Homo sapiens: one gene and its partners. The protein of the gene in region 1 purifies or fractionates together with the protein of each later gene. This does not show direct contact. Each region holds a gene or a part of one and is shown in the gene's direction. Other genes may lie near its edges.

Evidence for each region.
Region 2: the proteins of PAPOLG (region 1) and HNRNPR fractionate together in Homo sapiens (co-fractionation; one large-scale study listed by BioGRID). This does not show direct contact.
Region 3: the proteins of PAPOLG (region 1) and LRSAM1 purify together in Homo sapiens (affinity purification with mass spectrometry; one large-scale study listed by BioGRID and IntAct). This does not show direct contact.
Region 4: the proteins of PAPOLG (region 1) and PRKCE purify together in Homo sapiens (affinity purification with mass spectrometry; one large-scale study listed by BioGRID and IntAct). This does not show direct contact.

Annotation. Positions count from the first base shown.
Region 1 is NC_000002.12:60,783,312-60,787,565, forward strand, and holds part of PAPOLG (poly(A) polymerase gamma), read left to right. Parts: intron 1-3,635; coding exon 3,636-3,755; intron 3,756-4,199; coding exon 4,200-4,254. UniProt on the Homo sapiens protein: Responsible for the post-transcriptional adenylation of the 3'-terminal of mRNA precursors and several small RNAs including signal recognition particle (SRP) RNA, nuclear 7SK RNA, U2 small nuclear RNA, and ribosomal 5S RNA.
Region 2 is NC_000001.11:23,323,785-23,327,284, reverse strand, and holds part of HNRNPR (heterogeneous nuclear ribonucleoprotein R), read left to right. Parts: intron 1-3,500. UniProt on the Homo sapiens protein: Component of ribonucleosomes, which are complexes of at least 20 other different heterogeneous nuclear ribonucleoproteins (hnRNP). hnRNP play an important role in processing of precursor mRNA in the nucleus.
Region 3 is NC_000009.12:127,458,010-127,461,509, forward strand, and holds part of LRSAM1 (E3 ubiquitin-protein ligase LRSAM1), read left to right. Parts: intron 1-993; coding exon 994-1,062; intron 1,063-3,163; coding exon 3,164-3,248; intron 3,249-3,500.
Region 4 is NC_000002.12:46,148,175-46,151,674, forward strand, and holds part of PRKCE (protein kinase C epsilon type), read left to right. Parts: intron 1-2,866; coding exon 2,867-3,055; intron 3,056-3,500.

The DNA of each region.
Region 1 (4,254 bases):
ATTATTATATCTCTTTTTTTTTTTTTTTTTTTTGAGACAAAGTCTCTGTTGTCTAGGCTGGAGTGCAGTGTCGCGATCTCAGTTTCGCCACGTTGGTCAGGCTGATCTCGAGCTCCTGACCTCAGGTGATCCGCCCACCTCAGCCTCCCAAAGTGCTGGGATTACAGGCCTGAGCCACTTTACCCGGCCTTTTTTTTTTTTTTTTTTTTTTTTTTTTGAGAAGGAGTCTCCCTCTGTCACCCAGACTGGAGTGTAGTGGCATAATCTCAGCTCACTGCAACCTCCGCCTCCTGGGTTCAAGTGATTCCCCTGCCTTAGCCGCCTGAGTAGCTGGGACTACAGGTGTGCACTTCTATGCCCTGTGGCTAATTTTTGTATTTTTAGTAGAGATGGGGTTTTACCATGTTGGCCAGGCTGGTCTCGAACTCCTGACCTCAAGTGATCCGTAAAATTATTATATCTTACTGGTGATTGTTGTGCATGACCATGGAGCTTCAGTGTTTAAAATATGCCATCAAATTAATGTTTCAGAATCAGGAGGGACATGAGCAAAAGACACATGTATAGATGTTGCTTCTTATTGCTTCTCAGCCAGATTTAAGCAAAATTTTGAGCTAGTTTGGATGATTCTGATAGCTACCATCTGAGTTTCTCTTTTCTTTGTTTTTATTTTTTATTTTGAGACGGAGTCTCGCTGTGTTGCTGAGGCTGGAGTGCAGTGGCGTGATCTCAGCTCACTGCAACCTCCGCCTCCCGGGTTCAAGCAATTCTCTGCCTCAGCCTCCAGAGTATCTGGGATTACAAGCACCCACCACCACGCCCAGCTAATTTTTGTACTTTTAGTAGAGACGGGGTTTCACCATCTTGGCCAGGCTGGTCTTGAACTCCTCACCTCGTGATCCACCCGCCTTGGCCTCCCAAAGTGCTGGAATTACAGGCGTGAGCCACCACACCCGGCCTGAGTTTTTCATTTTTGCCATTGTGTTTACCTCCAACAAAACTCAGTAGAAAAGACATTTTGTATATCCTTTTAATTTAGGAGATAATGGCTTAAATCTTTCAGATTAAGCTTCCGTCAACAGGTAAGAGATATTTGTGGTCAAGAAGTAGTGTGTTCTTTCTAGTGCATCTAAATTTATCCCTTCTGCCTCTACTATATTCACATCCTTGGCTCTATCAGACGGAAGCTGTTAGACCACCAGAGATGGTTGTACTTTCCTTGGGTCTGACTTCTGGAAAAGCAAAACAGCAATACTGTTTTATTTTTGCTTCAAGAGTTTAATCCTTATTTCATTGGTAATTAAAGGAACTCTGAAAATAATCCTGTCACTGAAACAGTATTTTGTTTGTCTAGATCTGCAGTCAGAAAATAGGGTCTAGGCCAAATTCAGTCTGCCACCTATTTTTATAAAGTTTTATTGGAACATAGCCATGTTTCTTCGTTTATATATTATCTATGGCTGCTTCTGTGCTTCATAGCAAAGTTGAATAGGTGTAACAAAGACTGTATGGCCCAGAAACCCTAAAATTTACTATTTAGCCCTTTACAGAAAAAGTTTGCCAACCCGTCATTTAGATGACACTGGAATAACACAGATTTTTGTAGATTTACTGTTAAAGCACACATAATTATAATGTATAAGCTTTTGCTGATGTTTTTAAAAAATGTTAAAATGTTCTTGTAATGTTTCTAATTCATAAAGTCATTAATAAGCAAGCTGCCATCGGTCACATTTCTTAAGTGAGATAGAAATAAAATTGCAGAAATCCGATGAGACTTGCTGTATTTTAATAGGATGTGATCCAAATTTAGTGAATTCTTTTTTTGTTTTTTGTTTTTTTTTTGATATGGAGTCTTGCTTTGTCACCCAGACTGGAGTGTAGTGGTGCGATCTCAGCTCACTGAAAGCTCCACCTCCCAGGTTCATGCCATTCTCCTGCCTCAGCCTGGCAAGCAGCTGGGACTACAGGCGCCCGCACCTCGCCTGGCTAATTTTTTGTATTTTTAGTAGAGACGGGGTTTCACCATGTTAGCCAGGATGGTCTCAATCTCCTGTCCTCGTGATGCACCCACCTTGGCCTCCCAGAGTGCTGGGATTACAGGCGTTAGCCACCGTGCCCAGCCCGTGAATTTTTTTAAATGCAAAGTCAAGCATGATTGTTTCATATATTATGTGCCAATATTAGTTTCATTGTTTAAACTTATCTTAGCCTTAGGATTTATTTTTTTTTTTAGAGACGGAGTCTCACTGTCACCCAGGCTGGAGTATAGTGGGGTGATCATACTGCAACCTCAAACTCCTGGGATCAAGCGATGCCTCCTGCCTCGGCTCCCCAAGTAGCTGGGGCCTGCAGGCCCTTGCTACCATACCTGGCTGATTTTTTTTTTTTTTTTTATCTTATAGGGATGGAATCTCACTATGTTGCCCCAGGTGATCTCGAACTCCTGGCTTCACGTGATCCTCCCGCCTCAGCTTCCCAAAGTGCTGGGATTAACAAGCATGAGCCACCGCACCTGGCCTAGCCTAGCCTTAGGTTTGAGACATAAGATTTGAAGGTAGAAAAAGATTCAGGACTAGATAAACCAGCAGTTTTTGTTCATGCCCTAAGCCATGACTGTTTTATAGTCTTAACTAAGGGTATTTTAGATTCAGGAATGCATTACATAGATTAGTTCTTCTATTAAAAAAAAGAACACACAGAAATCTACTAACTTGTCATTTACTACAATGGCGTTTTAAATGGGGTTCCTAATATATTGGGCTGAAATTTTTAAATGAACATGTAAAGATTCATAGGTAATATGCTGTTTGGTTTACTTGAGTGTAGCTTTCATATTTAAAGTTGATATAAAATCAATTGTGTTTACAATTGCATTTAAAATGGGGTTCCTAATATATTGGGCTGAAATTTTTATTTTATTTATTTATTTATTTAGAGATGGAACCTCACTCTGTCACCCAGGCTGGAGTGCAGTGGGGTGATCTTAGCTCACTGCAACCTCCACCTCCCAGCTTCAAGCAATTCTCGTGCTTCAGCCTCCTGAGTAGCTGGGAATATAGGTGTGCGCCATACTCGGCCAATTTTTTTTGTATTTTTAGTAAAGACAGGGTTTCACCATGTTGGCCAGGCTGGTCTCGAACTCCTGACCTCAGGTGATCTGTGCACCTCAGTCTTCCAAAGTGCTGGGATTACAGGCATGAGCCACTGCACCTGGCCTGAAATTTTTTTTTTTGAGACGGAGTCTTGCTCTGTTGCCCAGGCTGGAGTGCAGTGGCACAATCTCAGCTCACTGCAACCTCCACCTCCCAGTTTCACGTGATTCTCCTGCTTCAGCCTCCCAAGTAGCTGGGATTACAGGCACTCACCACCACACCCAGCTAATTTTTTGTATTTTTAGTAGAGACGGGATTTTGCCGTGTTGGCCAAACTGGTCTTGAACTCCTGACCTCAGGCGATTCACCCACTCTTGCCTCCCAAAGTGCTGGGAGTACAGATGTGAGCCACCATGCCCAGCCCGAAGTTTTTTAATGAACATGTAAAGCTTCGTAGTTAATATGCTGTTTGGTTTACTTGAGTGTAGCTTTCAAATTTAAAGTGGACATAAGATAAATTGTGTTTGTTGTTTATTTTAGGGTTGGATTAGTAGAATCTAAAATCCGTGTACTTGTTGGAAACTTGGAACGGAATGAATTTATTACTCTTGCCCATGTGAATCCCCAGTCATTCCCAGGGAATAAGGAACATCATAAAGAGTAAGTTAATTGTTTTATAATACTTTATTTCTTAAATAATGTTATTTGGTATATGCATCATTTCAGAGTAATTGTGAGATTTTTGTTTAACAGGCATTGATGGGAGTATGACACATTATATATTTGAGTTTGAGTGTCTAGGCATTAAAAATAAGTACATAACTACTTTGGTAGCCCACAAACCCCAGCAAAACACCATCACAATATTTGGAGCATCTTTAAGAATATATTTAGTAAGTCATTTTCATAGCTGCTTAATCCTTCTCAGAACAACAGGGGATAACTTACCAGTTCTGGATGTCACTTTTAAGAATCTGGCCAGACCACTGAAATCTGTATTTGTGAGATAGAGACATAGAGACCAAGTTTTAATTATGAAATAGCATCTGTAAAGTTGTAAAAAATAATAATAATTAATGGAAATTCTTAAATTTTACTTTATAGCAACAATTACGTATCAATGTGGTTCCTTGGGATAATTTTTCGGAGAGTAGAAAAT
Region 2 (3,500 bases), on another chromosome or scaffold:
GGTATATCTAATTACTTGTCTCTTGAAAGATTTGTATTATACAAGTTCTGAGTAGGGTGGGAGCCATGTGTTTGTATAGGCTAGGCATTTACGTGGAGCAACTTCAAGCAGATACTTTAAAGATTAATTGGATATGGGTGGTAATGGGAGGAATTGAAAACATCTGAGATGTCTGTTTATGGAAGTAGTTCCTCAGTCACCTGGAGGTGGGGGCTAGGAGGGGAGAGAAACAGAAATTATATTCTTCTAAAGGTAGACGGGGGCAATCAGAGGAGCCAGTTGACAAGGCTGGGTTTTAATCATTTTGATTTTTAGAAAAAATCATTTGTTACAAACATGTCTTCATCATAGATTTCAAGGTATAAAGATGAGATTGGTATTCTGAATACTTCAGGTAAGAAAAGGTTTTGACGGTGGTAGTTGCATCACCAGTGTTAATACTTGTAGAGAAGGCAAGGATGATGAGAACTGAGGGGGAAAAATACTTTTATTTTTCTTCCTGAGACAGTTTCACTCTTGTCACCCAGGCTGGGGTGCAATGGCGCGATCTCAGCTCGCTGCAACCTCCGCCTCTCAGGTTCAAGCAATTATCCTGCCTCAGCCTCCCGAGTGGCTGGAATTACAGGTGCCTGCCACCATGCCTGGCCAATTTTTGTATTTTTAGTAGAGATGGGGTTTCACCATGTTGGCCAGGCTGGTCTTGAACTCCTGACCTCAAGTATTCCGCCCGTCTCAGCCTCCCAAAGTGCTGGGATTACAGGCATAAGTCACTGTGCCCGGCCTGGAAAAAGACTTGAATTTGGTTATTAGAAGTTTATTAGTGACATCTGGGTATACAGCTCGAGTTAGAGGAAGAAGCCAATTATAGAGGGTTAAAGAGAACATAGATGCTGTGTGCTTTTCTCAGTATGTTTTTGTTACAAAGATTGTTCTGCAGGGACATCACTTAAATCACATATAACAGTATCTTGTATCCCTAGTTGTGATGATGCCATAGATGTCTTGTTTCTACTTCTCTTTGGCTTCACGGTATTAAGCATGTAGTAGATGTGTTGAAAATAATAACTGTGTGAGTAAAAAAAAAAACGTACGGATGGCGTGTTCAAAACAGGCCGGGCGCAGTGGCTCACACCTGTAATCCCAGTACTTTGGAGGGCCAAGAAAGGAACAGGAAGATCACTTGAGTCCAGGAGTTTGAGACCACCCTGAGCATCATAGTGAGAGCCTCTCTCTTCCCCCAACCGCCACCCCCAGATATTAGCTGGGCATAGTGGCAAGAGCCTCTGGTCCCAGCTACTTGAGAGGCTGAGGTGGGAGGATTACTTGAGTCTGGGAGTGTGAGGATATAGTGAGCCATGATCATGCCACTGCGCTGCAGCCTGGGCGACAAGGTGAGACCCTGTCTCAAAAACAAACCAAACATTTATCAGTGAAAGGAAATAAATATAATACAATCTAAAGTAAGGGGTGTTTTGTTGTGTTTTGTTTTTGGATTGTTTGGAGACAGGAAGGAGCCAGTGGGAAGGGAAGGATGGTACTGAGCAAAATATGAGAGTTGAAGGAATAACGATTTGCAGTTATTTCCAGAAAGTGGTAAGAAGAAATGGGCTTATTTATTGTGGCTAAGGAGTTAACCTTAGAAAGGAGGTAGATCTCTTTCTCTGAGGTGCGATAGAAGTGAAAGTAGACATTGTGAGAGGTAAGAATATGAAGAAACCAATGACTTTCTCAGGTGATATCCTTAGAATGAGGTTTAGTGAATGAGGATTGGGGACCTTAAGGAGGTAGAAGAATTGCAATAACTATTGTGTGAGAATCATGCCAAGGAGTCAAAAGAATACCTCAAGTTTTACCAGATAGCAGTGAAAGTGAGTCTTGATTATTTTGGAAAGGATTATCTCTAGATAGTACATCTGTTGTAGAGCTTAACTTCAGAAACTTAATGTCCATAATAATGTCGGCATATTTTGGATTGGATTGCTATTATTACTTCTATATTTACCTATTATTCCAGCTATTTTTCAGACTGTGAAATGGTGATGTAGATGAGTTTCACTAGAAAATTTGTCATGCAAATACTAATTTTACTCATTCAGACTTTGTGGATTACAAATGTTTTAATATAAAATTTTTTGTTTTTTTTTTGAGATGGAGTCTCCCTCTGTTGCCCAGGCTGGAGTGTAGTGGCGCGATCTCGGCTCCCTGCAAGCTCCGCCTCCCGGGTTCATGCCATTCTCCTGCCTCAGCCTCCTGAGTAGCTGGGGCTACAGGCGCCGGCCACCACGCCCGGCTAATTTTTTGTATTTTTAGTAGAGACAGGGTTTCACCATGTTAGCCAGGATGGTCTCGGTCTCCTGACTTCGTGATCCGCCCGCCTCAGCCTCCCAAAGTGCTGGGATTACAGGCGTGAGCCACCGCGCCCGGCCAACATAAAACATTTTTAATGTTGCTTACATTGGAAAAACTTGAAGAAAATTGTAATCTGGTATCAAATGAGGGTTTTTGACTGTATAATTTTTAATTTATCATTGTATATTATAATTTAATCGTATATAATTTTGTAATTAAAGATCACAAATTCTTCAAATGGTGAAGAGGTTTTTTTTCATACCTTAAAATTTAATATTTAATATCTGGATAGAGAGAGGAATAGATTGAAGCACTGGAGTTTCTGAAAAATATTGAGATTGCTTTTTATTTATTTATTTATTTATTTAGAGATGGAGTCTTGCTCTGTTGCCCAGGCTGGAGTGCAGTGGCACGATCTCGGCTCGCTGCAAGCTCCACCTCCCGGGCTCACGCCATTCTCCTGCCTCAGCCTCCCAAGTAGCTGGGAGTACAGGCGCCTGCCACCATGCCCGGAGAATTTTTTGTATTTTTAGTGGAGACGGGGTTTCACCATGTTAGCCAGGATAGTCTCGATCTCCTGACCTTGTGATCCACCCACCTCGGCCTCCCAAAGTGCTGGGATTACAGGCGTGAGCTGCCGCGCCCGGCCGAGGTTGCTTTTTAAGTAGTAAAGATTTTAGAGTTGAGGAGATAACTTGAGGAGAGCTATGTCAATCTTTTATTCAATTATTTTATTTTTATTCATTTTTATTTTTAATTTATAAATTAATTTTTTAATTTTAAATAATAGAAATGGGGTTTTGCCATGTTGCCTAGGCTAGTTTTGAACTCCTAGACTCAAGTGATCCGCCTTCCTTGGCCTCTCAAAGTGCTAGGATTACAGGCGTGAGCTGCTGCGTCCAGCCTCCTTTATTCTGTTTTTATGAGAAAAAGTCAAGTTATAAAAATTTAAAATTTAGAGTAAATACAAATTTTACACTCTTATTAGTTTCCATTTTTCAAGAGACTTGTTCTTTGATAACCCTAAGGTCATTATAATAAAAATTAGGATTAGCTCTGCAAGTCAACTGTAAGTTTCAGATTGTTTCCATTCTTTCTTAACCATCTTCTTCTGCCCCCATCTTTAAAAAAAAAAGGCAGTAGGCTTTATG
Region 3 (3,500 bases), on another chromosome or scaffold:
TCCATAGATATGGAGGGTACCTGTGTGTGCACATGTATAAATATTTCTCCAAGGCCTTTTTTGTGCATTTTCATTTTTAAAAAATTAGCAGTCAGTCGTGGTGGCTCACACCCATAATCCTAGCACTTTGGGAGGCCAAGGCGGGTGGGTCACTTGAGGTCAGGAGTTCAAGACCAGCCTGGCCAACATGGTGAAACCCCGTCTCTACTAAAAATACAAAAAATTAGCCGGGCGCGGTGGCGGGCGCCTGTAGTCCCAGCTACTCGGGAGGCTGAGGCAGGAGAATGGCGTGAACCCGGGAAGCGGAGCTTGCAGTGAGCCGAGATTGCGCCACTGCAGTCCGCAGTCCGGCGTGGGCGACAGAGCGAGACTTCGTCTCAAAAACAAAACAAAACAAAACAAAACAAAACAAAAAAAAACACCAGCAGAGCATGTTGGCTTGTGCTTGTAATCCCAGCTACTTGGGAGGCTGAGGCACGAGAATCACTTGAACCCAGGAGGTGGAGGTTGCAGTGAGCTGAGGTCGTGCCACTGCACTCCAGCCTGGGTGACAGAGTGAGACTCTGTCTCAAAATAAAACAAAATAAAATAAAATTAAATTAAAAATTAGCAAGTACAGTTAAGCAAAGGGGGAAACATCTATAATTTTACACTGTGGAGTACCACTGTCAATATTTTATCGCATATTTGAAAGTCTTACATATTTATACAATGGAGTGTTTCTTTTTAACATATTAGTATCTAGGCATACTGTTTTATAGCATAGTTTTTCAGTTAACAGTAAAAATAAATATACATAAAATAAGAAAATGGTATAATGGTTTGAGAAGGAAAATGAGGCGGGAATGATCAACACTGAGTGGGAAAGGAGTGGCAGGCACTCTGTTTCTGCACTGGGGGTGTGAGGTGGCCCCAGCCCCTCCTCAGCGCTCTGGAGCCCGGAGTCTGAGGGACTTTCTCACTTGGAGACTCACAGGGGTCTTTCTTCTGCAGGTTCTAGATCTCCACGATAATCAGCTGACAGCCCTTCCTGACGATCTGGGGCAGCTGACTGCCCTCCAGGTAAGGCTGCAGAAACAGAAACCCACCTCGGATGGCCTTAGTGAGACCAGGCAGTCACTCAAGCCTGGAATGTTCTGGCCGGGCTCCAGCCAGTGGAAGCAGGCTGCAATCAGTGCCAGCTCCACCCTCCCCTTGGCCCTTTGGGGTTTTTTTTTTTTTTTTTGAGGCAGTGCCTCACTGCGTTGCCCAGGCTGGGGTGCAGTGGCGCCATCAGAGTTGCAGAGGCAACCTCTGCCTCCCGAGTTCAAGCGATTCTCCTGCCTCAGCCTCCCTAGTAGCTGGGATTACAGGTGTGTGCCACCACTCCCAGCTAGTTTTTGTATTTTTAGTAGAGATGGTGTTTCGCCTTGTTGGCCTGACTGGTCTCAAACTCCTGACCTCAAGTTATCCACTCACTTTGGCCTCCCAAAGTGCTGGGATTACAGGTGTGAGCCACCACGCCTGACCAATTGTACCACTTTGAGCCACAATAAATACCTTGGTGTAGGACTTTTTGTATGTGTATTTTTTTTTTCTCACTCTTGTCACCCAGGCTGGAGTGCAGTGGCACCATCTCAACTCACTGCAACATCTGCCTCCCGGGTTCAAGAGATTCTCATGCCTCAGCCTCCTGAGTATCTGGGATTACAGGCACACGCCACCACACCTGGACAATTTTTGTATTTTCAGTAGAGACTTGTTTTCACCATGTTGGCCAGGCTGACCTCAAACTCCTGGCCTCAGGTGATCCACCCGTCTTGGCCTCCCAAAGTGCTGGAATTACAGGCATGAGCCACTGCACCTGGCCAGTAGGTGTATTTTTATAGAATTGCTGCATTCACTAATTTGTAACTTTTGGATACCTGACAATAACTCATAGCATCCTTTGGTTCATCAAATATTCATCTTATTATTTTTAATGGCTACTTAGCTTTCCATTGCATCATTTTTTGTTTGTTTGTATTTTTGAGATAGAGTCTCGCTCTATCACCAGGCTGGAGTGCAGTGGTGTGATCTCGGCTCACTGCAATCTCCACCTCCCGGGTTCAAGCGATTCCCCTGCCTCAGCCTCCTAAGTAGCTGGAATTACAGGCGCCCACCACTATGCCTGGCTAATTTTTTATATTTTAGTAGAGACGGGGTTTCACCATGTTCACCAGGATGGTCTCAATCTCCTGATCTCATGATCCACCCACCTCAGCCTCCCAAAGTGCTGGGATTACAGGTGTTAGCCACCGTGCCTGGCCCCCATTGCATCTATTTTTAATGGTTAGTGTGTCATCCTGCTAGCCTTGCTCACCTCGAGGTACCACCTTCTGGAGGGAGCACAGCTTCGGAATCCAACAAGCCCTGGTTCAGTCCCAGCACCACTGCCGGCCTGAGGCCTTGGGTGGATCACACGGCCTTAGGGCAGCCTTTTCCTTAAGGCCAGGGGAACTAGAGCCTCCTGTGCTGCCTCCCCAGATCCCCAAGTCTGTAGTCCCCTTCTCCCTCCTTCCCTGATGGTGGGGCAGTTACTGAGCATTTTGTGGTCGGTGTAAGTGCTGGAACCTCAGCCAGAAGGGGTTCAAGGCCTGGCTGTGCTCTCCTGAGCACGTGACTTTGCCACCCTGAGCTTCAGTTTTTTTCCTGTCTCCAGCGGAAACAAGAATTTCTGTCTTCCTCAAGGGCCGGTAGGGGGAGATAAGAGCTTGTGTGTGTAGTGCCTGGGTGCCCTGGCCCGGCAGGGCGAGGGGTGCGGGGGTCATCACTGTGGTCTGTGTGTGGGTTCTCGTGTCACCTCTTCCTGTTTCTTTCTTTTTTTTTTTTTTTTTTTTTTTTTTGAGACGGAGTCTCACTCTGTTGCCCAGGCCGGAGTGCAATGGTGCAATCTCAGCTCACCGCAACCTCTGCCTCCTGGGTTCAAGCAATTCTCCTGCCTCAGCCTCCCGAGTAGCTGGGACTACAGGTGTGTGCCACCATGCCCAGCTAATTTTTGTATTTTTAGTAGAGATGGGATTTCACTATGTTGGCCAGGCTGGTCTTGAACTCTTGACCTTGTGATCCACCTGCCTCGGCCTCCCAAAGTGCTGGGATTACAGGCATAAGCCACTGCGCCTGGCTGCCTCTTCCTCTTTCTTAGGTCTTAAACGTGGAAAGGAATCAACTGATGCAGCTCCCACGTTCCATTGGGAACCTGACCCAGCTCCAGACTCTCAATGTTAAAGGTAGGGACCAAGAAGCCGTGTCCGTGTGACCCTCCATCAGCTCTGGGCCATCCTGGCCGGGATCCACAGGCTGCCCCGCCCGGGAGCCATTGAGCAGGAGGGCAGCCAGTCTCCGGGGGTCGCTGTAAATGGACTGACCCCTGCTGGGTCAGCTGTCTTCATGGTAACCAGAGACAGGCTGTCTGGAGGGTTCCTGTGGCTCCTGAGAGCCAGGGCCGTATGGCCGTATGGGGAGGAGGGCAGCTGGGCCCC
Region 4 (3,500 bases), about 15 Mb from region 1:
CCACCAGCCTTTGGTAATAGCATCATCAGGGCCAATGCCTTCTCCCTTCTCCCTTCTCCCGAGCTCTGACGCACTTGAGGGGTTGGCTCCAGGTGACTTCCCGTGACATGGAAGCCTTGCCCTTCTGCCCAGATCCACTGCCGACAGTTAATTAGGAAGCAGATAATTAGAGCCAAGCCTAAAAGGAATCTTACAAAAGATGCCACCCAAAATGAGAAGGCTGTGGAAGGGGCCTGGAGTGGGGTGGCAGGGCGGCTCTGTGGTTTCCACAGCACCATCCAGTCTCAGCACACACAAGCCACCTTCTCCCCACCCCCTGAAGGCACAGAACCCAGCTGCCTCCTTCCGAGAAGCTGGAGGGCAGCCACTGTAGCACCCAGTGTGCCCTGAGGCTAGAAGAGAAGGGAGCATGCCCAGTAGATACACACAGTGGCCATGCATGCTAGCCAGTCACAAGATGTTGACTGTCTCCTGGATGATAGAACAGGCTGGCCACAGCACTGGGCTCAGTAGCATGTTACAGCTCCTACCCTCTGGTACCTTATAGTTGCACTGGGGAGACCGCTGGCCATGAAAAAATAACTAACGACGTAGTGGTATGTGGAAAGTGAGAAAGTGCCTGCAACTCGTAGGAACAGGCAGGGGTCTTAAGTTGGGCGCTGTGTCTTTTGAGGTTGAGGGAGGAGTTGGCATTGGCTTTGGAGCATAGCAGAATCACTGGCTCCTCAGGACAGTGGAGCCCATAGCTTTGACCTTACAGCTCAAGGAACACTAACCACTGGGCTTAGACCAAAGGTATTAGCTAAACAGATTACCAGCCCCAAGTAATGTAGAGTTGGCTGCATTTTCTCAAATTCCTTTTCATTCCAAATTCAGAAGATTCTAAACTGTGAGTGTTTTAACTGTTTCTAAATGCTTCTTCTATCCAAATCTTTCTAGTTCATCCTAAGCAATTTGTAACCTCTAGAAGGGTATTTTGAGCAGACCACAGAAAGTCCAGATACTTGAATTCAGCCTCCTCTTCCCTGGCCACCATGAAATCTGAGAACTAAATTGGAGCCTTGTCCCCAGCCTGAGATATTATCTGCCCAAGGTGTCCCATGGGCTGGAATGACTAGGCATGAACTTTGCCTTTTTTTTTCAGGGTCCTCAAAGTGTTCCCCCTTGCAGGATATGCACTCCAACCTTGTTTCTCCTTCCCTTTTTAAAATTCTTTATAGAATTATGGACCTGGATAGGTCATCTCATCCACCCTCCTGTTTCTGGGCAGAGCCATGCCTAATCCCACTCTAATAAGAAGAGAAAATAATTGTGGAATGGGAATGTCACCTCATGATCTCTTCCTTGTAGAGTGGACAGCTCAGCATTTATTTTTCCTCTGAGCCAAACACATCATTGATCTGCTACATATTTATTTTATTTATATATGTTATATTTTAAAGGCATACTGTAAAATACAAAGCTCTATACAGCTGAAAGGTGATATTAAATTCTAGTCTTTTCTATTGGATGTCATCTCCATATATATATATATGTATTTTTATATATATGTATTTATATATATGTATTTATATATATATGTCATTGACATGCTACATATTTATATGTGCGTGTGTGTGTATCATGTATTTATGACATATGTGTATGGAGAGCAGATCAAATAGAATAGCCAATCAGAAAAGATCCTTTTTTTTTTTTTTGAGATAGGGTCTCACTCTGTTACCCAGGTTGAAGTGCAGTCGCATGATTATGACTCACTACAGCCTCAAACTCCCGGGCTCAAGTGATTTTTCCACCTCAGCCTTCTGAGAAGGTGAGACTACAGACACGTACCACCATGCCCAGCTAATTTTTTTTAAGAGACAGGGTCTTACCATGTTGCCCAGGCTGGTCTCGAAGTCCTGGACTCAAGTGATCCTCCCACCTCAGCCTCCCAAAGTGCTAGGATTACAGGTGTGAGCCATTGCGCCCAGCCAGAAAAGATGTCTTGTATTCAGTAGCATCATGTCATACATGCATTTAATCTAAGTGAATTTGACTCTACATATTTGGCTAGAGGAAAAAGAGAGACAGCATAGATAAGACAAGTGACCATTGTCAAAGACAAAATGCACCAGACAATCAAGGAGATGGTTCGATTCTGGCTATTGCAATAGGGGGTTCATTAGTGAAGGTGGCCCCAAAGGAAGGGGGCCTACGGTTTTGTAGAGGCAGGCAAAGTGGGGGATTCTTCAGTGGATCTTATGGGAATCATGATGAACAATAGAGATGGGTTTTTTCTTAGAATATGCAAGAGTATAGTGGTCCTTTATAGGGAGACCATTACAGGGTGGGGGAGACTTATTCATTGCAGTTTCCTCTCCAGGAGCACAGGGCTCAGGTAAATTGAGTGTTGCACCATTTAAAGAAGACCTCTGCTCACCTTTCCACTCAGGCAGTGAGCTGTGCCCTGGACTGTGTGAGATGGGAGACCTGACCTCGCTGCACTCTGAGTCACTTACAGCTTGTTCTCTCAGTATGCATCGTGCTCCCCTGACCCTGATTTTAGTGTCAAAATATGCAGTTTTTTAAAATGTGGCCCTCATGCCAGTCAGGAACTTTATCTGGTGCTCAAAGAAATAGGAATTTGTTCCCACTGGAAGACAGACTGTCGATGTTGACTTTGGAAAGATGATAGCTGGCCCCCAGCATAGTGCCTCCAAACTCAACTGTCACTGAATTTGCTGATTTAGAACTTCTAGGACTAGGACTCAACTGTAGGGAGGAGCAAGTTGGAATTGAAGTCCTTCCCATGGGCGTTCGTAGCACGGGTGTCACTGGGGTGGGAGCCTTTGATGGTGCCTGACATTGCTGGTTTCCTGAACAGATCCTGCAGGAGTTGGAGTATGGCCCCTCCGTGGACTGGTGGGCCCTGGGGGTGCTGATGTACGAGATGATGGCTGGACAGCCTCCCTTTGAGGCCGACAATGAGGACGACCTATTTGAGTCCATCCTCCATGACGACGTGCTGTACCCAGTCTGGCTCAGCAAGGAGGCTGTCAGCATCTTGAAAGCTGTGAGTCACTGCCCCTCACCCATGGCTGTGCTCTCCTGGGCTCCTCCCCCTACACACACACACACACACACACACACACACACACACACACACACTCCCTTCTCCCTTTCTCTGTCCAGCTTTCTCCCTCCCACCTCTGCTCATCACCACGGAATGGGAAGGATTAAGGGCAGTTGCCACTGGGAGTTCAGGCACAGTGCAGAGGACTGCTGCCAAGAGAATGGGGCCTGAGATGACTTGCTCTTCTGGTGGGAAGAGGAGCGCATGTCTGTGCTTCCTGAGATGAGGCACTGTGTACATCTGTGTCCTCCAGCATTTCAGAGGGAACAGAAGCAACTCAACTGTGCTGACATCACCTCTGCCACTTCCATACCTTCCTTACCTGTGGCCTGTCTTCATCAGGGACCTGTGATGGAGAACAGAGAGGAGGGGAGGGAGGGTGGGC